4 linked regions of the Homo sapiens genome follow. The protein of the gene in region 1 interacts with the protein of each later gene in a pairwise test. Each region holds a gene or a part of one and is shown in the gene's direction. Other genes may lie near its edges. The genes, in order: L3MBTL2, PAICS, EFHC2 and PHF10.

Region 1 (7,183 bases):
GAGGCTGAGGCAGGAGAATCGCTTGAACCCAGGAAGCAGACGTTGCAGTGAGCTGAGATCACGCCATTGCACTCTAGCTTGGGCAACAAGAGCGAAACTCCGTCTCCAGAAAAAAAAAAAACAAAAGCAAAAAATGCATACATCAACAGTACAAGGAAGTAAAAACCTGAGCATCCAGTTTCAGCGTATGAGATAAGCAGAGCAGGAACACCAGTGACAGGAACCGTTGGCGTAAGTTGAAATGGCCGTTTATTAGGAATTCAGTTGAAACATCTTATTAAGCACAGGTTGCTAAGCAATAGTGGCCGCCCCAGAACAGTAACAGTGTGGCAGTTCCTTCTGCTATGGAGCTCCTGGGCAGGGGTTTCATCCTGCAGCAAAGGTACCCTTTTTGGCTGGACTAATTCATCCCTCTACATGTGGACCTAATACGCTCCTCTCTTTTAAGGCCCTCCCTCTGTGCATCACTGTCCCTCTGTCTGGGATCATTGATCTGTCTCTCTCTACTAGATCACTCCCAATAGCAACACAAACGTGCTCTTCTGTTCCAAACTATGTACATAAATCCCTTAAACTCACCTCTTCTGCTCTATGCCCTGCCATTGTGCTATTCCACCCAGACAACTTTTTTGTTGTTGTTGGTTTTTGTTTGTTTGTTTGTTTTTTGAGAGAAAATCTTGCTCTGTCGCCCAGGCTGGAGTACAGTGGCATAATCTCGGCTCACTGCATCCTCCACCGCCCTGATTCAAGCAATTCTCCGGTCTCAGCCTCCCGAGTAGCTGAGACTACAGGCGCATGTCACCACACCCGGCTAATTTTTGTAGTTTTAGCACAGATGGGGTTTCACCATATTGGTCAGGCTGGTCTCGAACTCCTGACCTCAGGTGATCCACCTGCCTCAGCCTTCCAAAGTCCTTGGATTACAGGCATGAGCCACTGTGCCCGGCCAATATTTTTCTATTTTTAGTAGAGATGGGGTTTCACCATGTTAGCTAGGCTGGTCTCAAACTCCTGACCTCAAGTGATCCACCCACCTCAGCCTCCCAAGTAGCTGGGACTATACGCTTGTGCCACCACACCAGGCTAATATTTTGTAATTTTTTTTAATTGACACAGGGTTTTCACCATGTTGGCCAGGGTGGTCTAGAATTCCTTTTTTGTTTTTTTTCCAAGCTGGAGTGCAATGGCGCGATCTCAGCTCACTGCAACTTCCGCCTCCTAGGTTCAAGCGATTCTCCTGCCTCAGCCTCCGGAGTTGCTGGGATTACAGGCATGCCTCACCAAGCCCGGCTAATTTTTGTATTTTTAGTAAAGATGGGGTTTCACCATGTCGGCCAGGCTGGTCTTGAACTCCTGACCTCAGGTGATCCGCCCACCTTGGCCTCCCAAAGTCCTGGGATTACAGGCGTGAGCCACCGCGTCTGGCAGAACTCCTGATATCAAGTTATCCACCTGCCTCAGCGTCCCAAAGTGCTGGGATTACAGGTGTGAGCCACCATGCCCAGCCAGACAACTTTTTTTTTTCTCTGTCACCAGGGTAGAGTGCAGTGGCATGAACATGGTTCACTGTAGCCTCAACCTCCTGGGCTCAAGCAATCCTCCCTCCTCAGCCTCCAGAGTATCTGGGACCACAGGTACATGCCACTACACTTAGCTAATTTTAAAAAATTTTTAGCTGGGCACAGTGGCTCAGGCCTGTGATCCCAGCACTTTGGGAGGCCAAGGCAGGCGGATCACGAGGTCAGGCGATCAAGACCATTTGCCCAGGTGGGCGAATCACCTGAGGTCGGGAGTTCGAGACCAGCCTGACCAACATGGAGAAACCCCATCTCTACTAAAAATACAAAAAAAAAAAAAAAAAATTAGCCAGGTGTGGTGGTGCATGCCTGTAATCCTAGCTACTTGGGAGGCTGAGGCAGGAGAATTGCCTGAACCTGGGAGGCAGAGGTTGTGATGAGCCGAGATCGCGCCATTGCACTCAAGCCTGGGCAACAAGAGTGAAACTCTGTCTCAAAAACAAACAAACAAAAAAACTCTAATGCCGTTCCCTTGCACAGAATAAAATCCAAGCACTCCACAAGACCCTGAATGACCTGGTCTCAGCTTTCTCTCAAACCTCATCTTGTATCACCCTCTCCATGTTTTGCTATATCCATCTACTCTCTCTGTCTTTCTGTTTATTGCATACCAAGCTTGAGTTGGCCCCAGGACCTTTGCACTTGCTGTTCCACCAATGTGGCCTTTGCACTTGCTGAACCAACCTGTCTTTTTCTTTTTTTTTCACCACTATCTTATTCCAGAACATTTATTTTTATTTTTATTTTTTGAGATGGAGTCTTGCTCTGTTGCCCAGGCTGGAGTGTAGTGGTGCAATCTCGGCTCACTGCAACCTCTGACTCCCTTGTTCAAGCGATTCTCCTGCCTTAGCCTCCCAAGTAGCTGGGATTACAGGCACCCGTCATCACACCCAGCTAATAGTTGTATTTTTAGTAGAGATAGGGTTTCATCATCTTGGCCAGGCTGGTCTCGATCTCCTGACCTTGTGATCTGTCCATCTTGGCCTCCCAAAGTGCTGGGATTACAGGCGTGATCCACTGCACCCGGCCAGGTCAATGAGTTTTAAAGATCACCTGTGTGTATTAAAGGTGAAGATTTAAAAAGGGTGACCACAGGAGGTGGAGGTTGCAGTGAGTGGAGATCCCACTGCATTCCAGCCTGGGCGACAGGGGAGACTCCATCTCAATCAATCAATCAATCAATAAAAGAAAGAAAGAAAGGGTGACCAGTTGAAGGGCTGCTGCAATGGGCCGGTGGCTTGTATTAGAGTGGTAGTGGTGGAGGAAATACAGGATATATTTTGGAGGTAGAAAAACCAACACGTTGACAGCATGGATACAGGGGTTTAGGGTGGAAGGGGTTGAAGGAAAGAAAGACCTCTAGGAAGAGTTTGACATCTCCACGGCGGACTTCAAATTTAGGCATATATTTTATATGTATTCAGCCTCCACATATTGCATTTAGAGTCTCAATTAATTCACTGGGACACGGCATGGCATAGGGAAGGAATCTGTACTAAATTTGGAATCCCAATCCTGTGTGATCTTGGAAAGTGCCTAAACCTGAAGTGGTGAAGAGCCACCACTTCCTCTTCTTTCAAACGGTGATAGGATGTCTAAGGGTTTGAAAAGATGTTTGCAAAGCTCCACAACAGCACCTAGAACTCAGGGTGTCTAAGGAGGTTGTGGGAAACCCTAACGGGATGAGGCAGAGAGCCTCAGATTCGAGGTTTTTACCCAGGAGAGAGTGGTGAAGGAGGAATGTTGTAAGATTTTGAGCAGGCTGGACATTTACAGTATTGAGAAAAAGAATATTCCAGTTTCAGCCGGGCGCGGTGGTTCACGCCTGTAATCCCAGCACTTTGGGAGGCCGAGGCGGGTGGATCCCGAGGTCAGGAGTTCAAGACCAGCCTGGTGAAACCCCGTCTCTACTAAAAAATACAAAAATTAGCCGGGCTTGGTGGTGGGCGCCTGTAGTCCCAGTTACTTGGGAGGCTGAGGCAGGAGAATCGCTTGAACCTGGCAGGCGTAGGTTGCAGTGAACCGAGATCGCGCCACGGCACTCCAGCCTGGGCGACAGGGCAAGACTTCGTCTCAAGAAAACACACACACACACACACACACACACACACACACACACACACACACACACAGAGTATTCCAGTTTCTTCCTTTTTTTTTTCTTTTTAATCTGGAGTAGTCCAGTTTCTGCCTGAGTTGGAAATGAGTCCCTCTGCTATGCATCCCAGCAAAAGGGCACCTTAAATATCTAACCCGGGAGAGTACGAGGTTATTCCTGGAGTCTGGAACAGTGACTATCATAGGTGCTCAATAACCGTTTAGGGAAGAATAACATCCAGTGAAGTCAAGAGGTTGGCGTAATTGGAACACTCGGCGTGAGGCGCACCAGGTTTCCAGCGCCCCTGGTTTCCACGTCGCTATGGTAACGACTCACCCTGCACACATGCGAACTACAATTCCCATAACCGCCCGCGGCTTCCCCGCCCACAGGGAGAGAATGGCGGGAGCAGGCACGGAACCGGCTTTTCCTCCTTCCTGCAGCGTGATTGGCCCGCGGCTCAGGGAGGCGACCAATGAGTGCTCTCGCGGAGAGCGACGGGGCAGGCCAATATGGCTTCCTGCACCTGGTGACGCTTGGCGAAACTGAGGTCTCATGGAGAAGCCCCGGAGTATTGAGGTGAGAAGGCGAGGACTTAGCGTGACTGGGAAAGGGAACTCCGAGAGCCTCGCTCCGTGGGCCCTTCTTTAGGGCTTTTAGCGACGCCTGGAGGGTGGAGGGTGGGAGGATGGATAAACTGAGGTAGTTAAACTGAGCCAGGGGCAGAGGCAATTGACGTTACTTTTTGCCCCTCTCCTGCTGGGGCCAACGTTCGGCGAGGAGTTCAGGGAGGAACAGCCGTCCCTGGCCTGGGGGAAAGGGAACTAGGTTTAGGATCTGAGAGCTCCTGAATCTTCCTTATCCTGCTTGTCTCGTGGCTGTGTTGTTTAGGGCTTGTGAGGCCTGTTACATGAGGTGGGAAGTGAAGGGAGATTAAAGTTGGGTGAACATCACTCCTTGTCTGTAACGTTCACGTGCATTATCTTCCAGTACACTCACAGCAATCATGTATTATTCTTTCGTCTTTGTCGTTCAAGCCACTGAGGCTTAGAGGTGGTGCGACACCCCAGGAAGTTACCCCGGCTGGAAAGTGAAGGAGATTGGCACTAAGTCTGTCCGCCTCTGAAACTTTGCCTGTTATGCTTTTCACACTGTACTGCAACCTGGAACCCACTCATCCTTTTTTTTTTTTCTTTCAGACGGAGTCTTGCTCTGTCACCTAGGCTGGAGTGCAGTGGCGCGATCTCGGCTCACTGCAACCTCCGTCTCCCGGGTTCAAGCAATTCTGTCTCCATCTCCCATGTTCCTGGGATTACAGGCATGTGTCACCACACCCGGCTAATTTTTGTATTTTTAGTAGAGACGAGGTTTTGCCATGTTGGTCGGATTGGTCTCGAACTCCTGACCTCAGGTGATCTGTCTGCTTCACCTCGGCCTCCCAAAGTGCTGGGATTACAGGCATGAGCCACTGCACCCCGCCTCATCCTTTAATCATTTGGTTTCTGGGCACCTTATATTTAAGAGACGGGGTGTTCCTATGTTGCCCTGGCTGGAATGCAGTGGTTACTCACAGGCGTGATGACAACGCACTGCAGCCTCTAACTCTTGGGCTCAAGCAATCCTTACACCTCAGCCTCCTAAGTAGCTGGGACTATAGGTGGTCTCTGTCACCCTGCCTGACAAGGGTACCTATATTTGAATTGTTTCCTTGCTGGGTGCGGTGGCTCACGCCTGTAATCCCAGCACTTTGGGAGGCCGAGGCGGGCAGATCACGAGGTCAGGAGATCGAGACCATCCTGGCTAACATGGTGAAACCCCATCTCTACTAAAAATACAAAAAAATTAGCCGGGCGTGGTGGCAGGCACCTGTAGTCCCAGCTACTCGGGAGGCTGAGGCGGGAGAATGGCGTGAACGTGGGAGGCGGAGCTTGCAGTGAGCCGAGATCGGGCCACTGCACCACTGCACTCCAGCCTGGACGACAGAGCGAGACTGTGTCTCAAAAAAAAAAAAAAATTGCTTCCTTTCTAGCATATTTGCATGTGTAGTTGCAAATATAAGGTGGAATAGCTCAAACTTTCTGCAAGGGTAAACGAGAATAATCATGTGGAGAATAAGAATAGCAAGTCACACTTTTAGAGCTGTTACTGACTGCTGGAAATAGAACTAGGTTTTACATATCTTATCTCAATCTTCGTAAGAATTCTCTAAAGAAAGCTTATTACCTCTCTTGTAATGATGACAGCAGCAAGATAAAATACGCACAAAATCACACAGTTAATAAATGTTAGAGCCAGGATTCAAACTCAGGCAAATCAGAGCCTATGCTTTCAACCAGTAAAAATTGGCAACCTTTATTGAGCACTTACTATATGCAAGTCACTATTCTGAGAGCTTTGCCTGTATCGTCTCTTACTTCTCCCCCAAATCCTTTTTTTTTTTTTTTTTTTTTTTTTGAAACAGGGTTGCTCTCTGTCACCCAGGCTGGAGTGCAGTGGTGCAGTCATAGCTAACTGCAGCCTTGACCTCCCTGGCTCAAGAGTTCCTCCCACCTCAGCCTCCCTAACCAAAACACCCAGCTAATTTTTTCCATTTTTTATAGAGACAGGGTTTCCCTATGTTGCCCAGTCTGGTCTTGAACTCCTAGGCTCAAGCAATCCTCCTGTCTCGGCCTCCCAAAGTGCTGGGATTACAGGCATGAGCCACCATGGCCAGCCCCCAAACCCTATGAAATAGGTGGTACTATCCTCATTGTACAGATGTGGAAACTGAAGCACTGCAAAATTGACTTGCTGCAGGTCATACAGCGAGTAAGCACTAGAGATATTTGAGCTCTGGACCAGAGGCCAAACTTTTCTCCTTTCTTCACACCTTTTTTTTCCTTTGAGACAGTGTCTTCCCTCTGTCATCCAGGCTGGAGTGCAATGGTGTGATCATGATTCAGTGCAGCCTTGACCTCCCAGGCTCAAGCTGTCTTCCCACCTCAGCCTTCTGAGTAGCTAGAGCCACAGGTGCATGCCACCACCACCCAGCTTTTTTTTTTTGAGAAGGAGTCTCACTCTGTTGCCCAGGCTGGAGGGCAGTGGTGCAATCTCGGCTCACTGCAACCTCCAACTCCTGGGTTCAAGTGATTCTCCTGCCTCAGCCTCCCGAGTAGCTGGGATTTCAGGCACCCACCATCATGCCCAGCTATTTTTTGTATTTTTACTAGAGATGGGATTTCACCATGTTGGCCAGGATGGTCTTGAACTCCTGGTCTTAAGTGATCCGCCCGCCTCGGTCACCCAAAGTGCTGGGATTATAGGTGTGAGCCACCGCACCCAGCTTTTTTTTCTTTTTCTTTGGAGACAGGATGTCATTCTCTTGCCCAGGCTGGATTGCAGTGGCATGGTTATGGCTCACTACAGCCTTGACCTCCCAGGCTCAAGCAGTCCTTCCACCTCAGCTCCAAGAAGCTGGGACTACAGGCGCATGCCACCACACCTGGCTAATTTTTTTTTCTTTTGTAGA
Region 2 (7,914 bases), on another chromosome or scaffold:
TGACTGAGTGCATCTCTCATTCTCACAAGTGCCTTTCCAGTGGTAATGTTCTGTACTCTGTTTGCAGAACCAGTGTCTAAATCTCTTAAGAAAAGTGCTCCTGAGATCATTACAAATCAGTTTCCTCAAAGCGTAATAACAGAACCAAAAGATTCTACAGAATGTTTCTGCAGACAGAAAACCCAACTTCATCAGGTAAATCTTATAAATTTTTAGAAGTATGAAAATGTTTGTCATTGTAAGGTTCAATTCCTAACCAGGAGAAGTGATAATTCATTGAATGGAAGGGCATGGTTATCTCCTAATCAAGGAAAGGCTAATTAGCTGATTCATGGCATAAATCTACAGACATTTACTAATTCCTTTTATGGAATCTTCAAATATGTCCAGGCCATTCTAGTCTCCATAAAATGTGACTGTGTTTTAAAGATGAAAATGTTTATTCTAAGAAGGGGTGTCTGGTTTGTTCAGAACTCCGCAAACTACTGAAATGATGTTTTCAGGACCAAAACAGCATTTGGTGATTATATAAATCAGGCATGAACATACCCACACACATGCATGCACAGTTTACAGCTAAGAGGACATGTGAAAATTCCCCTACAGAAAGCAGAGCTACGGAATAAATCTGAAGACAGCCAGAACTACTAAAAACGGGGAGTACATCTGGATGAACCCATCTGGGTTAAATATCCAGTGCATGACTGGCTTAACTAATTGATACTCTATTTATTTTTATATGAAATGGCTAATATACCTTCCAGGTATTCTGTTAACCCCAGGACTAAATGTTTCAGATTAGATTATACCCAAGACAAAAAACTGGACCAAATACAAAACAAAAGTGATAGAAATCTCACCTTCTAGATTCCATCTTCTTAAAGATAAGGTTGGCCAGGCATGGTGGCTCACGCCTGTAATCTCAGCACTTTGGGAGACCGAAGAGGGTGGATCACTTGAGGCCAGGAGTTCAAGACCAGCCTGGTCAACATGGTGAAACCCCGTCTCTGCTAAAAATACAAAAATTACCTGAGTGTGGTGGCGGGCGCCTGTAATCCCAGCTACTCGGGAGACAGGTACGAGAATCACTTGAACTTGGGAAACGGAGGTTGCAATGAGCCCAGATCATACCACTCCACTCCAGCCTAGGTGACAGAGTGAGACCCTGTCTCAAAAAAAAAAAAAAAAAAGGGAGGCCAAGGCGGGCAGATCACGAGGTCAGGAGATCGAGACCATCCTGGCTAACACAGTGAAACCCCGTTTCTACTAAAAATACAAAAAATTAGCCGGGCGTGGTGGGGGGCGCCTGTAGTCCCAGCTACTCGGGAGGCTGAGGCAGGAGAATGGCGTGAACCCGGGAGGCGGAGCTTGCAGTGAGGGGAGACTGCGCCACTGAACTCCACCCCAGCCTGGGAGACAGCGAGACTCTGTCTCAAAAAAAAAAAAAAAATCAAGAAGATAATATATAAGAAATAAATTCCTTCATCAAAAAGGAAAAAAACACAATCAAACCTTTTTGCAGTTGTTTTAAAACTAACCAGTGAGTGAATGAGGGTGAGAAAGTGAAAACAGAGCTTTCTGCAACAGACCACCACTTCTCAGAGTACGATATATATATACATATATACATACACACACGTATTTTATATATATATATATAAAACTAAACTAAAAGAAAAAGTTCTTAGTTTTATTCTGGCCCTTATCTATCAGTTTCGAGCAGCAGATAATTGTATTTCCAAGACATAAGGGAGTGTCATTGTTCTTCCAAGCAGAATCAGTCCTCCCAAAGGATGAGCACTTTAGCTCATGTAAAATTTTGAATTGATTATGGGTGAGAACCAGCCCTCTTTGTGCACCTTAATGATTCTATGCCTACACAAGAGAAATGTTAAATTGTTTTTCAGTAATACATTTGTTCCTCAAAACCACATAATCACATCATTATTGCCCTTATCTGGTATTATTTAATCTTACAATTCTTTCACAGAAAAGCAACTATAGAAAACAGATATATGTAACCAGGAATCAAATGGTATTCATTAAAAAAAAAAAAAAAGAAAAAAAAAACCTATAACCATGAATACCAAGTATTTTCCTAAACTGGGTACTAAAACTCCAACCAGTGCTAACATGTAAGTTAAAAAAAAAAAAAAGCCTCTTTTTCTTCAGGCACACATTTAAAGGGAAGGAGAAAGGGGGATGAAAATTTCTTGAATAACTTTGGCAAAAAAAGTAAATATAGTGAAGTACAGTTCATACATATTTTCTACAGACCACCAGGCAACCCTAAAGACCTCTAGATTCTCCCTCACCCCCATGACAGAGTATCCAAAATAACAACTGTTTTTTTTTTTTTGAGACGGAGTCTCGCTCTGTCGCCCAGGCTGGAGTGCAGTGGCGTGATCTCTGCTCTCTGGAACCTAAGCCTCCCGGGTTCAAGCGATTCTCCTGCCTCAGCCTCCGGAGTAGCTAGGACTACAGGAGCGCATCACCACACCCAGCTAATTGTATTTTTAGCAGAGATGGGGTTTCACCATGTTGGCCAGGATGGTCTCGATCTCTTAACCTCGTGATCCGCCCGCCTCGGCCTCCCAAAGTGCTGGGATTACAGGCGTGAGCCACCGCGCCTGGCCATAGTTTCTAAGAATGTTACAAACTAATGTTGCTCACAACTACCACATAATCAAGAGTTTACTTTCTCCTTGGATTACGTAACTAATTTTCTCAATAAACTTTTTTTAAAAAAAACAAGAAATCTATTATGGTCAACCCACAATTATCCAAGATTGGAGCTACGCAAGTTAAAAATATTCTTTTTGATGCTTCCCACATTCTCAGCTCTTTAGTAAACAAGGAACACACAAAATGTGAAACTGAAATTGAAGTACCTGGGACAATGAAAACAGCAAAAAATACTTCTAATTTAAGTTTGGTGGAGGAAAAGCTAATCTTTTGGAATGCGTTTATACGTGTTGCACCCATTTTGCTGTTACGTGTTATTGCCAAGTTCCTTAACTGTAGTGTAAGTTGTTACCACTGTATTGCCTTATGGAAACTGTAATACTTTCAGTAAGAATATCAAACCCAGGTTTGTTTTTCTTATCCTAGTGTAATAATTTATATCAACTTCCAGTTAAGTCAGGTAGTAAGAAAAGGAAAGATCACCGAAGCAAAGTAATTTTTTTTAACTCGAAAGGATCTCCCAATTTTTCAAAATCAAGTGTATGGATCTTGGCATAGAGACACTACTCCCCTGTCCCCCTTTTGAAGAAGGGAGTTAATTTTTGTCATGTTATTACCAACGTTTTCATTCATTAGGCAAGACGTCTACCAATGAATCTTTTCCAGATGCACTGTTCCCTATGGTTGGCTTATTTCCATTTAATTTATGTGAGATCTACTACCAGTAGTCATTCTCAACATCAACTAGTCATCTTTCCCTGGGTCTGAAGTCTAGCATCCTCAAGTTCCCATAGCGATAACTACTTTCAAACCCATAATCTGCTCAATAGCTCTGCCCTTGCAAACAAAAGCTTGTGGTGGTTGGAGGCCCCGCGCGAAAACCTTTAGGTGTTGAAGGACCTGGACTGGCCGCCACGCCACACTAGCCTATTACAGGAGCAGCCACAGGCTCCGGGAGACTAGAACCCGCCTGCAGTCGGGGAGGAGCCCTGACCCAGCTAGACCAAGCAAACCGGCGGTTTACAAGCTGGCCAGCCTCTGGATGGGTGCACACACCGGGGGGCGGGGAGGGAGAGAGCCCCTAAAAGGCATAAGTGGCTGGGAGGGTGGGCAGGACAGGCTAAAGTTCATGGAAGCGAGGTGCCCCTCGTGCACGCCTAGGCAACCCGGTCGACGCCACAGGCAGGTACTGGCTTAGGTCGGAGAGGTCGGTCCTCCCGGGCCCTCGGGCGCTCATGAGAACGCCGACTGCGGGAAGCGGCTCCGAGAGATGGAGACGCACGCCCCCGCCACCCCCACCCTGTTGCTCACCGGTGCTGCAGCCCCACGAGTCCCAGAGTGATCACATGCGGTACATCCAGCTGCGTGGGCCACTCTCCTGAGGCGATGCACCCGAACACGCCACATTCCTCTCGGATCCCCAACTCCTCCAGCTCCATGTCGCCGCCGAAAGCACGTGGAAGGACCTGCCGCTGCGGCCAAGGTGTAAGCACCAACCAGCTGCCAGCTCGGCCCGTCGAGCTCAGAAGCTCGCGCTCGCGACAGGCTCTTCCTTCCCGAGGGTGGCCCCAGCTACTGCGGCGGCGCGCGCTGTCCCTAGGTGGCGTGGCCAGCTCAGCCCTGCTCCTCCCCCTCCGAGTCCACCAACGAGCGAGGGCGGAGGGGCGGTCCCGCGGCTGAGGGGCGGGGTCACGGATGCTGTAGGGTGGAGCTAGCCTTCCCCTAAGAGCTGCCTGGAAAGCTGTATTTGCTGCACGTGGAAATCTCCGTTATTTTCCAGCACCCAACAGTAGCGTAATGGGAGTAACGGACTTAACCTCATTTCTCTTTCAGAGCATTTAGCCTTCATATGCCCTTCCCTGCATGCTTCCCCCAGGCCGTCAAGACTTGGTACGCTCCAACTTCTGAGTCGCTCCCGCAGCCGAGAAGGGGCCGGGGTATGCGAGCTTCCGCAGAGTGGGGAGGGGCCGCCAGTGCGCGCCACTTTTCGCCTGTCCGGGCACTGCGCCAGCGCGGGGCGGCCCGGAGGCGGGGTCGCGTCTCTGCGCCTGCGCGGCGGGAAGCCAGTGGGGCGTTGTTTCGTCCGATATCCGCGTTTCAGTCTCCGCCCATACCCCTCCGGGTTAGGCGGCTGTAGCGGAGCTCGAAAAGAGTGGCGCAGGGTCGCGCGGCCCCGCCTCCTTCCCCGCCCAGCGAAGCTCTCTGACCACCCCTCTTTTCTAGAGTTCTGCCTCGCTTCCCGGCGCGGTCGCAGCCCTCAGCCCACTTAGGATAATGGCGACAGCTGAGGGTGAGTAACAGGGATCCGGGCCCTTCACGGTCTCCCTGACCCCCAGGCCGTGAGCTCGCGGCCACGTGCGAGCCGCGAAACTCTGTCCCGCCTCCCTGCAGCAGCGCCTCTAGGCAGCCGCGCGGGCGCACACGTGGCCCAGGCGCTCCCGGGCCTCCCCGAACTTTACTGCCTCGGGGATGGGGAGAAGGAGCAAAGTAGAGGAGAACGAGAAATGGCCAAGGGGTGGAAAGGTGCCTGGAAGTATTATTTATAATCAATAGCTATTGCAAAATACAAGCAAATCAGTCTTGATTCGTCAAAACCTGAGTCTTGCTTTGCCCGTTAGGTTAATGACCTTTCTAAGAAGGTTAATAATTGAAACTTTTGAAAGACCTGTCTAGAGGCCGGGCCTGGTGGCTCACGCCTGTAATCCCAGCACTTTGGGAGGCCAAGGCGGGCGGATCACCTGAGGTCAGTAGTACGAGACCAGCCTGGCCAACATGGCGAAACCCCGTCTCTTACTAAAAATACAAAAAATTAGCTGGACGTGGTGGCGCGCGCCTGTAATCCCCAGCTACTCAGGAGGCTGAGGTAGGAGAATCGCTTGAACCCGGAGGCGGAGGTTGCAGTGAGCCGAGATCGCGCCATTGCACTCCAGCCTGGGCGACAAAGCGAGACTCCGTCTCAAAAAAGAAAAAGAAAAACCTGTCTAGGGGGCGTGTGTGTAAGTAGTCTTTGATGCCATGGTGTGTGTGTGTGTGTGCACGCGCGCGTGAAGTAGTCTTTGATGCCACGATAGCTTGGGGTGTGTGTACGTGCGTGTGCGTGTTTAAGTAGTCTTTGATGTCATGGGTGTGTATGTGTGTGCGCGCGCGTGTTGAAGTAGTCTGATTCCATGATGGCTGGGGAGGGGGGCTGTTTTTAGGTAGTCTTTGATGCCATGATGGTGTGTGTGTGTGTGTGTGTGTGTGTGTGTGTGTGTGTGTGTTCGTTCCAGTAGTCTTTGATGCCACGATGGCTTTGAAGAACTCCAAAACCTTTAGGCAAAAAAGTTGCACTATCAGGAAAGATTGTTCTTGCTATTTATGCTGGAAAAAAACAAATGCTGGTTTTTTCCACACACCCAGTTGCTATATGTATAGTGAGGCAAATTGCTTTTGTGGCTGCTGGGTACATTCTTTTCCACATAGAAAGTAACTGAATTCAGATTTTAAAAAGCTGTAGACTCAGGCCGGGCGCTGTGGCTCACGCCTGTAATCCCCAGCACTTTGGGAGTCCCAGGCGGGCGGATCACGAGGTCAGGAGATCGAGATCATCCTGACCAACATGGTGAAACCCCGGCTCTACTAAAAATGCAAAAATTTGCTGGACGTGGTGGCGTATGCCTGTAATCCTAGCTACTCGGGAACCTGAGGCAGGAGAATCACTTGAACCGGGGAGTCAGAGGCTGCAGTGAGCCGGGATCGCGCCACTGCACTCCAGCCTGGCGACAGAGAGAGACTCTGTCTCAAAAAAAAAAAAAAAAAAAAAAAAAAGCTGTAGACTCAGCAAAAAAGATTCAGATGATATTGAGTATCAACTCCCTAGAATCAAGGCAAGGACCAGAATTTTTCTTGCAATCATGGTACCTGTACCTCTAAAATGGCAAATCTCTAAAATCTTTGCTCTTCCACTTCTTTCCATTTGTGTACCGTTGGCAGGTTGATTTTTCTTAAATGTCACTTTTATGGTCTCTAAAAGGCAAAAGTGGCAACAAAGGCAAAAATGGCATCTCTAGAGATGTTAAATCCAGTCTGTCCAGTCTGAAATCCCTTTTCATTCAAATCCTGAATACTGCTATCCCTTCTACCTCTTCAGCCCTAACTTTGATTTTTCTCTCCTGTGAATCCTTAGCTATGTTCCAGTCAGGTTAATTCACCAAAGTTTGTTTTTCATTATATACATTTTATTTATATTATTTTTCCCAGAACATTGCTGGCTAATGGAAATATAATGTAAATTTGTCTTCTATAAGCCACATTTTAAAAAGTAAAATAATAAAAAAAACTGGTGCAATGTGTTTATATATATATATATATATATATATATATATAAAAGGTTTTTTTTGTTGTTGTTTTTTGTTTGTTTTGCTTTGTTTTTGAAATGGAGTCTCGCTCTGTGTGGCCCAGGCTGGAGTGCAGTGGCAAGATCTCAGCTCACTGCACCCTCCACTTTCCAGGTTCAAGTGATTCTCCTGCCTCAGCCCCCCAAGTAGCTGGGATTACAGGCACACTCCACCACACCCGGCTAATTTTTTTTTGTATTTTTTAGTAGAGTCAGGGTTTTGCCATGTTGGCCAAGCTGGTCTCAAACTCCTGACCTCAAGTGATCTGCCTGTCTCAGCCTCCCAAAGTGCTGGGATTACAGGCGTGAGCCCATTTTAATATATTTTATTTAACCCTATATACACAAAATACATTTCAACATGGAGTCAAGATGAAAAATTCTTTAGATATTTTACAATTTTTTATATCGAATGCAGTATATATTTTAACAAATGACATTTCAACTTGTAATAGCCACATTTCTAGTGGCTGCCTTATTGGACAGCAGAGTCCTAGAATTTTCTTATCCTTTGTGTAAATTCTGTGCTTTCCCAGACTCTTAAATTTCAATTCCATGAATCATTTTCAGTCCTCATCAATCTTTCCAGAATTCATCTACAAATTTGTAGCAACCATTTTGGTACTTGCAGGGTATGTCACGTATGGTTGTTTCTTATGTTGTTTCTACCCATTAATTCAAATTCCTTCCCTCTTTAATGACTAAGTAATACAGATTCAACTAAATTAAGGGGAGGGGCATTAGATACAAACTTTGCCCGGGCTTACTGCATATTAATATATATAAATGTTAATTTCTTTATCTGATCTGGGCACTGTTTTTTTTGTTTTTGTTTTTTCTTGAGACGGAGTCTC
Region 3 (7,023 bases), on another chromosome or scaffold:
ATTCATTTCCCATTAAAAATACAAAAGCAAAACCAAATTTAAACAAAACAAAACAACCCAGGAAACTTGAGAAGTAGATGTAGATTAAATGAATTTCCTTTAGATAGGTCAACATCAATGCTGTGGGCTTTCCTAGACTCTATGGAAATTCTTGACTAGGAGAATCTAGAATTATTAGATGATAATGTCCAGAAATACCTAAAAGAACTGAAAGCATTTATTCTGAAAGACCTCTTTCTAGCAGAAGGCCAAATAAAATTTTCTATTCCCTTGTTTATTCAGGATTCTTGGGAACTGAATTATTTCCAGTAAATAAATTTTCTAGACAGTGGAAGCTTATTCCTGTAACCACCATAACATTTTGCATTTTAATCATTTTGATATAATTCTGTCTGGTGTATGCTGCTTAGTTTATGGCTTTCATACAGAGTTACATTGAAAACAATTCAGCCAATTTGCTAGGCCTTGAGTCGTCTTCATTGATATGTTGTTGTTTAGTTTTTTTTTTTTAGCTCTGCCTAATAATCTCAGTACCATTTGCCTTCTAAAGATGCAGACAGCTGTACGCTTACATAGGTCTTTTAACTTTTCATTTTTTTTTCTCTTGTTTTTTTTTCTCACTGCCAGGGTGTGTCCAGTTTTACTTTTTATTACAGAAATGTGCATGATTGCTTTCCCCATCCCAAAACACCTTTCTAATTTATTAACTTACAAATTTTATGTCCCAGGAAACCAGAAACCCAAGCCTGTTACTATTTTGTGTAAGGAAGATTAATAGGCATTGAATAAAGTCATGTACTTAGTAATAGGTTTTTTGACCATTCAAAGCCTTTAAAAATTTACTTCCTGGTTGCAGGCTGTTATTTGGTAGGTGTTTAACTCTGGGCAAAATGCCATTTTATTTATAAGCTACAGTGCCTATGATTTTCCATTCTGGCATTGGTGCCTTCCTGCTGCTCCCAAATTAAGAAGAGAAATTAAGTTAAAAAAATCACATGACCTCTGTACAGTTGGTAAAAGTTTTGTAAAATGGAATTTGGATCTTTTAAATAGAAGGAGATGTAAAATACTGTATTCTTAGATATCAGTTTATAAATGTTTTTCCATTTTTATTACAGAGACATATTGATGTCTTTGACTGTTGGAAACCTTGCAGAGCAAGAATTTGTAACCATTGCACGTCACTACCGTGTGCCTGAGGGCACATGTTCAGATATGGATTTCTTAATCGCACTGGCCCACGAAAAGTTCAAGAAAAATATGTTTGAGAATTTCGACACTTTCATTTATTCCTGTGTGTATGAAGATCGAGAAAAGTAAGCTTTTGTTTTATTGATTCTAATCATTTACATTTCTGTGAACCTGAGTAATGAAGGAATTTCTATTTTATCAAAAAGTGCAAAAAGAAAATAGACATGTGTCATCATACTCATACTCTACTATTTAGCACAAACACCTTAAATCATTTTCGGAGAAGTATTTAGGTACAGATATTTCCCAGTGATGGAGAGCTTGTGTGTGTGTGTGTGTGTGTGTGTGTGTGTGTGTGTGTGATATGGCATCTGGCCCTGTCGCCCAGGCTAGAGTGCAGTGGCGCAACCTCGGCTCACTGCAACCTCCACCTCCCAGGTTCAAGAGAGTCTCCTGCCTCAGCCTCCTGAGTAGTTGGGACTACAGGCTCGCACCACCGCACCCAGCTAATTTTTTTTTTTTTTGTATTTTTAGTAGAGACAGGGTTTCACCATGTTGGCCAGGCTAGTCTTGTTGACGGAATAGGGGAGGCCCTGTATCTTTGAAAGAATAGGCTTCTCCCTTGCATGTTCTTTTCATTTGTTTCTAGAAGCTTTCAACTGAAGCATAGTAAATCAAAATGTTAGGAGGGTTAATTCTGAGATGTCGTCTTTTTACATTATTTTAGTACTGATGGGGATTTATAAATGTAACTTTTATAATAAATAGAAAATGGAATTTTCAAGCAAACATTCTGTAGAATTTCTTTGAAATTATTTCTTCTTGAAAATAATGAAGTTCAGTATAAGCTATTTCTTATACATTGATTGTGTGCGTGTTGAGCTTCATTAAGTCATTGTTACATACAACTGGATGCAAACAACTTAATGTGTTTTTTTTGCATTCATCTTACAGACCTTATACAGTGGGGAGAAATATAAATTTACTGATTTCATCTGGAATTAGAAAAATCTTAGTTCTTGCTCTAGCTTCTAATCCGTATTGCTGCACACCACTGCCATCTCTCTTCCTTGTGACTTCTTGCCTTATCCCCAAACTTGAAGTCTGAACCCAAGTGGCCAACTGCATTCCCTGAATATCTGTGTAGGTCCCATAGTTTGTCTTAGAAATAATCATTTTTTTTATTAATCCATAATGCATCCTCTTTGAGTTTTTATAAAGATGGTATTTTTCCTTGACTCTTTAAGCTTTCCCAAGCTTCCTAGAAGATGTGTGGCCTGAGTTTTGCATGGCCCTGGCCCTGCCTTCCACCCTGGTGTTGCCCCCTTCCCCAGAGTGAGAAGTGTGGCCCTCCTTCATTCAAGGAACACTTCTTAGGAACAATGGGGCTGCTTGACCAGATAGCCTGAGGTTCTTCCAGATCCATCAAGCTTTGATTCTAGATATAAACATTCTCATTGCAAAGAAAAGAGCCAACTTTCTTTCCTGTTGGTTCTAATTTTGCCCGATGCCTGGAAAAGTGTTGGCTGAATGAGAACATTGGACAAGAATGTCTTTGCCCCCATAAGACTGGAGAAAATGACTTTTGGGCTGCTCTAGAGAAAACTGCTAGCATCTGAAAAAATTGAAGTGAATATTGAGGCCCCAGCTGGGGCTTCCAGGTGATAAGGTTTGGGTCCAAGGAAAAGAACAGAAAAACACCCTCAAGTCATATCATACTTGTGTTGGAGGCTCTAGATGCCTGTCAAATTAAGAGATGTTTTCAAATATCAGAACCATTTTTGACTAGTGGTCAAGAATGCAGATCAATTACTTAGAGCAACACTTGTGGCTGTAGCCTTAATAGGCTGTACTGTCACCAACCAAGAATCTGCATCTTGAAGGAAAAGCCTTTGTAAGGATGGAGTCTGGTGGCCTCTGAAATAGAAAAAGTTGATGAAATGAAATGTGACTGTTCTTCCTTATTGTGAATTCCAATACCAATTTTCATACTTCCATGTGTACATTCTCAGGAAACATCACAAATGTATTTTCTTTCCTATAGTATGTAATTATTACTAAAGGTATACAAGGTATATAAAAGCTCATTTACGTTGTTTTAATGCAGAAAAAATGTATTACCCACCAAAGACATTAAAAGGCTGTGCAAATCCTCCAGATTACCTTTGAGTGATGATCTTCTAGAATCCTTATTGTCAAGGTAAGTTAGAGTTCCACTCTTGATAGGGATTGTCCTGCATAGTTTTATTTGGGGGACCATTCCTGGTTTTACATCTCCCTTTAATTACCCTTGATTTACCCTTAACTGTTTTGATTATATTATTGGTGACCTGCCTCCATTTAAGTGTTACAGAAGGAAAAGTTTGTCTTGATTTTGAATGTTAGAGAGCCTATTACAAATTATTATTTTATCTTTTTAACATGAATACACACTTATAGATCCACAGATTCCTGGGACAAAATGAAATACACAACTTTGTTGGTTAGGAGGACATTAGATGTAAAATTCAGGGCAGGTTTTTCAAAGCAGCAGTTCCTGATAGCTATAGACATGCAGTAAGAGAACCTAGGGTTATTAGCATGGGGCTCTGTCCTGATAGAGCACCAGATGTAAAACATAGAGATTATGATGCTATAAAATGAGAGCATGGTGAACTGCTTTCTAAAACACATCAGTTCTCCTGTTGAACCTGACTTTTGATTTCCTGGCATGTCCCTCTCAGCCACCTAGACTCTGGCCATCTCTTATGCTTCCTATAGCATCACTCACTCTAGCTCCTCCTCTGACTTATATATCTTGATAATTCTGACATTTTCAGCTGTGTTCTAGGCATTGTGATCATTGTTTTGGATATATTATCTCATTTACTTTTTGAGAACAGCTTGGTGAGGTCGAAACTGTTATCCTTCTTATCTCATACGTAAGGATGCTGAGGTTTAGAGAGATGAGGTATTTTGCCCAAAGTCACATAGTGTAGAAGAAGAAGAGCTCTGATTTGAATCCTGAACTTTTCAAATGCACATCCTCTGCTTCTAATCATTTTGAGTTACTGTCTACAAATAGCCAGTAGATTAGGATGTCTTGACAGTTCTACCTCCTCCTTACTGCTTGCTTCTACTCTCTCCTCTCCATTTCCACTATCATCATTCTTGTTCTGACCCACATTGCTTCTTAAATACTGCGGTGCCACCACATTGGTCTTTCATCCACCAGTGTCTAAATGTTTAAATCCATCTTTACATATAGCAGCTAAGTACCTTCTAAGAGCAAAAATGTATGTCATCTTATTGCACTTTTACTCACAAACCTTCTGTGGTGTCTCTTTGCTCTCTAAGGAAGGACCAGCTCTTTAACTTTGAATTAAGCTCCTTCTCCATAGTGGGGCTTAGGGTTCGCAGCTGGAGCATTGTTCTCAAATAGGGTCTGAAGTAGGGAGTCCTTGTTTGAGACAAAAGGAGAAACCAAAGGAACAGATAAAGCCAAATTCTATGTCAGGGAACTAGGGTCCAAGGTATCAGGAGGGAAACCCAGAAGAGGGCAAATCTAGTTGGATGTGTATGTGCATTGAATCAACCTGGAATAATTTTCTAGATTATCAGTTCTATTTGTTTTGTTTTGATTTTGTTTTTGTTTAACTCTATTTGCTTTTATTTGCTAGCAGCCGTGTGAGGGATCCTGCCGTGAAGGAACTGAGATGAAGTAGGCAGGCCTTGGACTCAGAGTTCTTCACAGATATCATCCCCCACTCCCAAAACTCCCCTTCCTGTTCCCAGTAGTCCAGCCACATGGGCCGTTTAGCATATTACACATATACCTCCTGCCTTCCCCCTCCCCCCCCCTTTTTTTTTTGGCCTTTTCCCTTGCTATTTCATCAGTAGGCAATAGCTCCCAATGGTTTTCACTTGCTGAAAGCTTGCTCTTCCTTCAAGACCCATTTCAAGTGGCACCATATCCATGAAGCTCTGTTGCATTCGTTTGGCTGATAATCAGAGTGATTATCTCCTGCTCAGAATTCTCACAGTGCTATTTATGTGTCTCTTTATCCCTTACCTTGGAATGAAGAGTTGTGACTTGAACTTCGATTCATTCAGATGCAGACACTGCTTCTGTGTGATTTACCACCTATAAATAACCAATGGGTTGTCACATCCTGACAATTTTACCCCCCTCCTCCACTCCCATCTCTTAAATTCTTTGAGTCCACTTATTAGCTGTGTGATCTTGTGCAAGGGTTTTGACCTGCCTGAACCTCAGATTCCTTATCTCTCGAATGACGTAACAGTACCTATTTCCTAGTGGTTCAGAGGATTAATTGAGATAACATACATAAAGTACCCAGCACAGTACCTGGTGCAAAGAATTGATTGAGGACTAGGAGAGAAATTTAAGTCAGGGACCATAGACCACACACTCAGACTTAGAAATGAACTGGAAGAAACCTGTGTCTTTCTATGTAGAGGAAGCCATGTTTTTCAACAATTGGATCTGAATGCCTTTCACACATTAAGCTGTCTTCTAGTCAGGAAGCTGTGGATGTTTATTAGATTATCTTTTGATGGTCTTAAGGATGAGTTGTCCTGGAAAGTCCAGTAATGTGGGAGCCTGGCCTCTGGAGGACCTACATGTTTCTTATCCAGTGCTGAGGCCACCAAGTCATCATCCTCTCATTCTCTCAGCAGACTGTTTTGTCTTTGCCTTTACGATTTGACATTAAATGCAAAAAGATTGTTTCAGAACTTGCTTCGAAGTCATCTCAGTCTCTGAACACATCTGTCTCCAAGCCCAGCTTAGCTTTGAGGAGGTCATCCCGCTCAGCTGCTAAGCAGACCATGTTCAGTCTAACTTTGCCTCTAATTGTGCAGTGACCCTTCTCCACACTCAGGGGAAACTTCAGACTAATCAGATTAGAAAATGTCTCATTCCCATTCCCCTCTCCCTCCAATATGCCCTGCCATGATTTGGGTCACATGCTTAGTGTTTTGCATCATCTCTGCAGATTCCTTTCAAAGACTGCCCTAATTCCTAATGGGCCCATCAGCCTGCAGCTTACATTTATATTCTGCATTCTTATTGTTCCCCACAGACTCCACAGGGCTTTACAGAGCCCTGACCAGAGTCTCTTTCTGCACAGCCCTCCTTATGGCACGCTAAGCCAGAGCCCCCTCTGACGTCTACAGTCTCCCGTGGGAGGCAGGCATGGAGCTTGTTGATTTTGTTCAATGCATGCTCTTGCCCAGGAATAGTTTTACCTGCCTTGGAATGGAGCTGGGCAGCTGCTGAGCAGCCGTGTAACCCTGCTGTGTAAATTCAGATCAGGAGATGAAAAACAATATGGCTAAAGGGTTGGATGCTTTCTTTCACCCAGTAATTGTTACCCATGTATTTCTCCTAACCCTATATTTTGGTACCAGGATTTTCCTTCTACTCCATTCCCATTTTTCTTATAATTCAGCTTGATCTTTTCCTTATTATGTTAACATAACTCAAACTGGAATCAGGACTTCAAAACCTTTTTGTACCTGGTTACCTCAGCCCCTGTCAGTTTGTGCTGTGGGAGCTGGTATAAGGTCACCTTACTTACCAAGCAAATTCATTTCATTAATGCACAGAGCATCAGACTTAAATGTTCTATATAGTGGTAGCGATTATCCATTAATAATAGGAGTGATACTTTGTATTGATGTAGTGCTAAGGGCCTTAGAATATTTTGTAAATTTTTGAGCATATTAAAAGGTACATTTTAATTGGCAGTAGGCATTATTCCTCATTTCATAAGTATAAACTCTGAGAGTCTCTCACTGAAAGACTGTGCTCCAGGCCAAGATGAGCCT
Region 4 (7,023 bases), on another chromosome or scaffold:
AAATGCCTAAAGTAGTCAATTAAAATAGTCCTATGAACCGGCTTCAAGTTGAATTGAGAACTGTAAATGATCCATACATTTTTTTCCCCCTGAGCTTGGGTAGGAGAGTTTGCTTTAATCCTAGAGTGATGCAGCAGTTTGATATGTTTATGAAGAGCAGAAACCAAAGCAGATTTGCATTTACGGGTTCATTGAAAATGTTCTTATTTGGATTGGATTGAAGATCAGTTTTAAATTTTATTCCAGGTCTTGCTCATGCCAAACTCTTGGACCCTTTTAATTATAATATGAAGTTAATACTTGTATGACTAGTTGTCCTTAGACAGTCTTTCATTTATTGAGACTTACTGTTCTTTTATTCTTTCTCTAATTATTATTTTTGAATCTTTTAAATGTATAGGATGATAATGAAGATAATTCAAATGATGGGACCCAGCCATCCAAAAGGAGGCGAATGGGCTCAGGAGATAGTTCTAGGAGTTGTGAAACTTCAAGTCAAGATCTTGGGTACTGTCATTTTATCGGTTATTAATATTTTTTGTGATGTTCCTCTTTGCCTTAACATCCTCTTCCCTTTCCCCCAGCTCTGGCAAAGGCAATTATTAAAAATTGTAGAATATTTTCTTCCTGTTCTATAATGTGCCATCAAAGTTGGTCTTGCTACTGAGTGTAATTAAAAAGCAATTTTATGATAGTAAAATACATACATACATAAAATTAATCATTTTAACAATTTTTAAGTGTGAAATTCATTGGCATCAGTTACATTCACAGTGTTGTGCAGCCATTACCACCATCCATTTCCAAAACTTTCACTACCCCAAACTTTATAACCATTAAGCAATAACCTCCCTTTCTCCCTCTATTTAGCGCCTTGCAACCATCATTCTACTTTCTATTTCCGTGAATACGACTACTTAGTTACTTCATATAAGTGGAACCATAAAATATTTGTCCTTTTGTGGCTGGCTTATTTCTCTTAGAACTTTGAATATCTTCAAGGTTCATCTTTGTAGCATATGTCAGACTTTTTTTCTGTTTTTAAGGCTGAATAATACTCCATTTTATGTATATACTGATTTTGTTTATCCATTCAGATGTTGATGGGCATTTGGGTTTCCACCTTCTGGCCAAGGTGAATAATGCTGCAGTGAGCATTGGTGTTCAGAGTTTGTGTTTTCAGTTTTTTTGGATGTTTATCTAGGAGTGGAGTAGCTGGATTATATGGTAATCCTATGTTTAATTTTTTGAGAAGCTGCCAAACTGTTTTCCATAGGGGCTGCACACCAATTTACATTCCTACCAGCAATTCACAGTTTCCAGTTTCTTCATATTTCTCACCAATTTGTTATTTTTCATTTTTTAAAATAATAGTTACCCTAAAAGGTGTGGAGTGATATTTTATTGTGATTTTGATTTGCATTTTCATAATGCCTACTGATATTGAACATCTTTTCATCTGCTTGGCCATTTGTATAGCTTCTTTGGAGACATGTCTATTCAAGTTCTTTGTCCATTTTTTATTTGGGGTTTTTTTTGTTGTAGGAGCTTTTTAAATATATTTTATATATTAATACTTCATCAAAAATATGATTTACACATATTTTCTCCTGTTCTGTGGGTTGTCTTTTCACTGTCTTGATAGTGTCCCTGTACAAAATTTTTAATTTTGATGAAGCCCAAATTTTTCATCTATTTTTTCTTTTGTTGCTTGTGCTTTTGGTGTCATATGTAAGAATCTACCTTCAAATCCAAGGTTGTGAAAGATTTCTATGTTTTCTTCTAAGAGTTTTCTAGTTAGCTCTTATATTTAGGTTGTTGATCCATTTTGAGTTGTGATATGAGGTAAAGGTCCAATTTTATACTTTTGCATGTGGATACCCAGTTTCCCAGCACCATTTTTGAGAACACTGTTCTTTTTGAAGGTTACTTTTTAAATAGATGGATGCATAACATAGTGTCACTTTCCCATGTCCAATATAGAGGTTGAATTGGCCCATATCCTGAAATCTGTACTCTGTTACTCAGGATGGAGATCGACTGTGATACCCTGGCACCTTCAAACTAGGTCCATTCTTTGCTTCTGGGTTTGTGGAGTATCTGAGAACAAACAGTTACGGTTTATGATATGATGCACTGAGATAATAGGTTTTTAAGAGTTCTGTTTTCTCAGCTATTTATGACTCACTGAACAGTAGACAAGAGACAGAAGTTGATTATTCTTTGGGTGGATGAAATACTGGCTATGCATTTTAAGCCCAAGAGAAAGAAGTCAGAGCTGATACCATCATCACCTTGCTTTGCCCTCATAGGTCCTTTAAACTAAAAATGCCTTCGTTCTTAGCAATTGTGATTCTACGTTCTTCCCAGTGTATAAAAGATGTTATTTTCACATACCTTTTTGACTTGGTAGACCAGATAATTATTTCTATTCCTTGTACCTGTTTTGTAATTTTCTTTGATACACAGGAAGTCAAGTCATAGGAGGCAAATAATTTAAATACTTAAAATAGTTTTCAAAATATCCTCAATAAAAGTGATTAAAAATTAATGAAAGCTACATTTAATGCATAATATGTATTTCTGTACTTAGTTTTAGTTACTATCCAGCAGAAAACTTGATAGAGTACAAATGGCCACCTGATGAAACAGGAGAATACTATATGCTTCAAGAACAAGTCAGTGAATATTTGGGTGTGACCTCCTTTAAAAGGAAATATCCAGGTACTAGTTTATATAATAGATTAATTTATAATTGATAGTAATTCTTTATGATACACTGTCAACTTCTGAATTTTTCTGTAGATTATATTTTATATTCTTGTGCTTGCTGTTTTTTTTTAAGACTAAGGGTCTCATTCTGTAACCCAGGCTAGAGCGCACTGGTGCGATTATAGCTCACTGCAGCCTTGCACTCCTGGGCTAGCTGTCTCCCTGCCTCAGCCTTCTAAGTATCTGGGACTACAGGTGTGCACCACGACGCGTGGCAGATTTTTTTAATTTTTATTTTTTTAGAGATGTGAAGTCTTGCTATGTTGCCCAGCGTGGTCTCAAACTCATGGCTTCAAGCTATCCTGCTGCCTCAGCCTCCTGAATTGCTAGGATTACAGGTGTGAGCCACCACGCCTGGCTGTGTTTCATTTACTGCTATCATTCAGCATCACTCTTCATTATTGATATTTTCTATGGCTCATAAACTGATTTAAAAGCAAAATGGGAAAGGTGAATTTCCTGAGGAAAATTTTAGAAAAAATCATTTTATAGTCAAGTTTGGGATTTTTACCATTGTTTCTTGATCTAAGGAATAGAGTTAGCTATATGAGCCGTATCTGAATTTGAGAAAGGCTATTCCTCATGAACTAGTTTAGTATAGTTATTTATATGACCTTCTTGCTTTGGATTATTCTATTTCCTATTTTATTCTAACTTTTGTATCTTGCTGAGTTTTATTTCTTGAATTTATAAATTTTTTTGTAGCCCCTTTAATAATATTTGGAATATGTAATATGAATACTTTAAAAAGTCAAGGTTTTTAAGCTTTTAAAAGTTTTACAAGTGCATAAGGTTTTGCTGTTTTTAATAGTCTTTTGATCTTTTTTTTGGAGATTTAGAGCGACGAGATTTGTCTCACAAGGAGAAACTCTACCTGAGAGAGCTAAATGTCATTACTGAAACTCAGTGCACTCTAGGTAAGAATAGCTTTTTAATGTGAATTTTTCAAGCTGAACATTTATGAGATAATACTAGATAAGTATCTTATTTCCTAAAATATTTTACAAAATTAATAAAATAAATTGAACTATTTAAATGCTACATTATTTACTTCATTTTTGATTATTGTTAAAATACACAGGAGAATGAAGCTTGAACACACATGTGGTTCCTGACTTATGATGGTTCAGCTTCATGATGGTGTGAAAGCAATGCATATTCAGTAGAAACCATACTTCAAGTGTCTATACAACCATTATTCTTTTCACTTGCAGTATAATATGTAACAAGTCACATGACATATTCAACACTTTATATTAAAATTTGTGTTAGCTGATTTTGCCCAGCTGTAGGCTAATGTAAGTTTTCTGAGCATGTTTAAGTTAGGCTAGGGTAAGCAAAGATGTTTGGTAGGCTAGATGTATTAAATGCTTTTACTTTTTAGGATAGTTTCAACTTAGGATGGGTTTATCATATGTAACCCCATTGCAAGTCAAGGATCAACCTCTATTCTATAACAGAGTATAATTGTCTAATTTTTCTCTTTTTTTTAACACAGAGTCTCTCTCTGTTGTCCAGGCTGGCATGCAGTGGCGCGATCTTAGCTCACTGCAACCTCCATCTCCCGGGTTCAAGGAATTCTCCCTCAGCCTACCGAGTAGCTGGTACTACAGGCGCATGTCATCACAGCCATCTAATTTTTGTATTTTTATTAGAGACGGGGTTTTACCATGTTGGCCAGGCTGGTCTCCAACTTCTGACCTTGTGATCCACCCACCTTGGTCTCCCAAAGTGCTGGGATTACAGGCATGAGCCACCATGCCCAGCCCTTGTCTAATAATTTTTACAGAGTTTTCAGAGTGTTTGTATTTTTTGTACAAAGCTTGTACAATATATTTTTTTAAGTTGCAGGTTCTTTGCTAAGTGCATGGTGTGTGCGTGTGGTCCCAGCTACTTGGGAGGCTGAGGGAGGAGGATCACTGGAACACAGGACTTTGGGGTTGTAGTGTGCTGTGATCATGTCTGTGAATAGCCACTGCACTCCAGCCTGGGCAAGATGGCGAGACCACATCTCTAAAATGCAAAAAGGCAAATTTTCTTCAATTTTTAGTTCTGTATAATTATGTCCGTGCTTTATTTGTAATCTTTTTTTCACAAACATTTTAATGCAACATGGCTACTTTTTATATAAATTCTTGGGAATGCATTTTAGCAATTGGTGAAATCTGATACTGTGAGTTTTGAAAATTGTCTCCATGGTGTGTGTGTGTGTGCTGATGTTTTTGGTGAAATTTTAATTGATTGTAATATTTCTTGTGTATGGAATTTGAAGACTGGGAACTATAATATGTTGAATTTTTTTTTATTCATCTAGTATTCTGTAGTACTTGTTAGTAGTTAGTGCATTTCATTATTTAACAGTTGTTTCCAACTAAAGGGATATATGTTCAAAGCACATAGAATCTTAAAAATAAACTTGTTTGGTTGAAAAATTGATATATTTGCCTTTTGCAAGATAATCTTTTGATTGCTCGAGTTTATATTGTGAATATTAAGTTTAATTATTTTCAAATGTACTAAGATATTTTGCTTTGGCTATTGGAAAACCATTACAACGTGGAGCGGTTTGAAGAATTAAATTTTGAAGAGTGCTTTTGTTCACTTATCCTTAAAAGAGCTTCTTTATTTTTTTATTTTTTGGTCTAAAATAGGCTTAACAGCATTGCGCAGTGATGAAGTGATTGATTTAATGATAAAAGAATATCCAGCCAAACATGCTGAGTATTCTGTTATTCTACAAGAAAAAGAACGTCAACGAATTACAGACCATTATAAAGAGTATTCCGTAAGTAATTGAGGTGACTGGCATTTTTTATTTGGGTTGGGGAAAATGACATTTTAGAAAGTTATATGTGACTTCCAACTGTATTTTTTTTTTCCAGCAAATGCAACAACAGAATACTCAGAAAGTTGAAGCCAGTAAAGTGCCTGAGTATATTAAGAAAGCTGCCAAAAAAGCAGCAGAATTTAATAGCAACTTAAACCGGGAACGCATGGAAGAAAGAAGAGCTTATTTTGACTTGCAGACACATGTAGGATAACTTAAATTTAGTACCCCCTGAACTTAGTTTATTACTTGTTATTGCAGAGTGCCCATCACCCCCTTTATCGTTATTTTTTGTACCACCTATGTGTGTGTGTTTTTTTTGTTTGTTTGTTTGTTTTGTTTTGTTTTTTGTGGCAGAGTCTGTGTAGCCCAGGATGGAGTGCAGTGGCATGATCTCGGCTCACTGCAACCTCCGCCTCCCGGGTTCAGGCGATGCTTCTGCCTCAGCCTCCCCATTAGCTGGGATTACAGGCGCCTGCCACCACACCCAGCTAATTTTTTGTATTTTTAGTAGAGATGGTGTTTTACCATGTTGGCCATGCTGACACCTGCGTGTTCTTTTTTTCCTCAGAAGTTGAGATGTTATTTTTAATGGTGTGCTTAATAATACTCAATTTACATTTTTTTGTGAGATGTCTTTTGCTTTACGGTTAATAATTCTAAATGAGACTAATAATAGCTACATATCATACTTGCTGTGCGTCCCAAGAGTTTTTAAGAGATTTGCATGTTAATTCTCATAGTAACCATGTGAGGTTGGAACTAGGATTACTTCCATTTCATAAAGAAATTGAGCTACAGAGAGGTCGTATAAGCTACCCAGATCACTCTGCTGTTAAGTAGTGAGCAAGAGATCCACTGCCATTCCTCAGGAGAATAGGCCTTTAAAACAATAATATATAGAACTGAAAGCACCAACTGTCCTCTTAGGTTATAGCTCCTGATATCTCCTAAAATTTTAGCTTTTCGAGGGGGAAGTGGGCGTGCAGTGGTGAGCACGTGGGGACTCTTCCTAAAGCCTTGATTCTTAGCATGGAATCAGTTTTGTGTTTCTCTTTATGTTAACGTAGGTTATCCAGGTACCTCAAGGGAAGTACAAAGTTTTGCCAACAGAGCGAACAAAGGTCAGTTCTTACCCAGTGGCTCTCATCCCCGGACAGTTCCAGGAATATTATAAGAGGTATTTAGTAGTTTTAGTTACAGTTGGTATCGGCTATTGGTAAGGGGTTTCAGAGCCTTTTGTACTTGCCTCCTAACAATTTTGGGGTCTATAGATATCACCGTAAGATATCGTATAGGATTTGTGTTGCTATTCTTCTCTGGTTCTGTGGTAAACAATACCCTGTAGTCAGAATTTGAATATATGCTGGTGAAGTCTAGATGCCTCTGTCTCTGCCCATTCTGTTTGGGTTTGTTAGAGACAG

Evidence for each region.
Region 2: the proteins of L3MBTL2 (region 1) and PAICS interact in binary tests that used the Homo sapiens proteins (3 or more experiments, as listed by UniProt).
Region 3: the proteins of L3MBTL2 (region 1) and EFHC2 interact in binary tests that used the Homo sapiens proteins (3 or more experiments, as listed by UniProt).
Region 4: the proteins of L3MBTL2 (region 1) and PHF10 interact in binary tests that used the Homo sapiens proteins (3 or more experiments, as listed by UniProt).

What each region holds. Positions count from the first base shown.
Region 1 is NC_000022.11:41,201,133-41,208,315, forward strand, and holds the start of L3MBTL2 (lethal(3)malignant brain tumor-like protein 2), read left to right. Parts: upstream 1-4,179; 5' UTR 4,180-4,230; coding exon 4,231-4,254; intron 4,255-7,183. UniProt on the Homo sapiens protein: Putative Polycomb group (PcG) protein. PcG proteins maintain the transcriptionally repressive state of genes, probably via a modification of chromatin, rendering it heritably changed in its expressibility.
Region 2 is NC_000004.12:56,431,354-56,439,267, forward strand, and holds the start of PAICS (bifunctional phosphoribosylaminoimidazole carboxylase/phosphoribosylaminoimidazole succinocarboxamide synthetase), read left to right. Parts: upstream 1-4,906; 5' UTR 4,907-4,908; coding exon of another isoform or gene 4,909-4,959; coding exon 4,960-4,975; intron 4,976-7,914. Other genes in the region: PPAT (amidophosphoribosyltransferase), read right to left, coding at 3,997-4,124. UniProt on the Homo sapiens protein: Bifunctional phosphoribosylaminoimidazole carboxylase and phosphoribosylaminoimidazole succinocarboxamide synthetase catalyzing two reactions of the de novo purine biosynthetic pathway.
Region 3 is NC_000023.11:44,172,660-44,179,682, reverse strand, and holds part of EFHC2 (EF-hand domain-containing family member C2), read left to right. Parts: intron 1-1,118; coding exon 1,119-1,316; intron 1,317-1,474; coding exon of another isoform or gene 1,475-1,476; intron 1,477-3,298; coding exon 3,299-3,391; intron 3,392-7,023. UniProt on the Homo sapiens protein: Microtubule inner protein (MIP) part of the dynein-decorated doublet microtubules (DMTs) in cilia axoneme, which is required for motile cilia beating.
Region 4 is NC_000006.12:169,714,489-169,721,511, reverse strand, and holds part of PHF10 (PHD finger protein 10), read left to right. Parts: intron 1-400; coding exon 401-507; intron 508-2,593; coding exon 2,594-2,724; intron 2,725-3,605; coding exon 3,606-3,689; intron 3,690-5,423; coding exon 5,424-5,557; intron 5,558-5,654; coding exon 5,655-5,804; intron 5,805-6,669; coding exon 6,670-6,779; intron 6,780-7,023. UniProt on the Homo sapiens protein: Involved in transcription activity regulation by chromatin remodeling. Belongs to the neural progenitors-specific chromatin remodeling complex (npBAF complex) and is required for the proliferation of neural progenitors.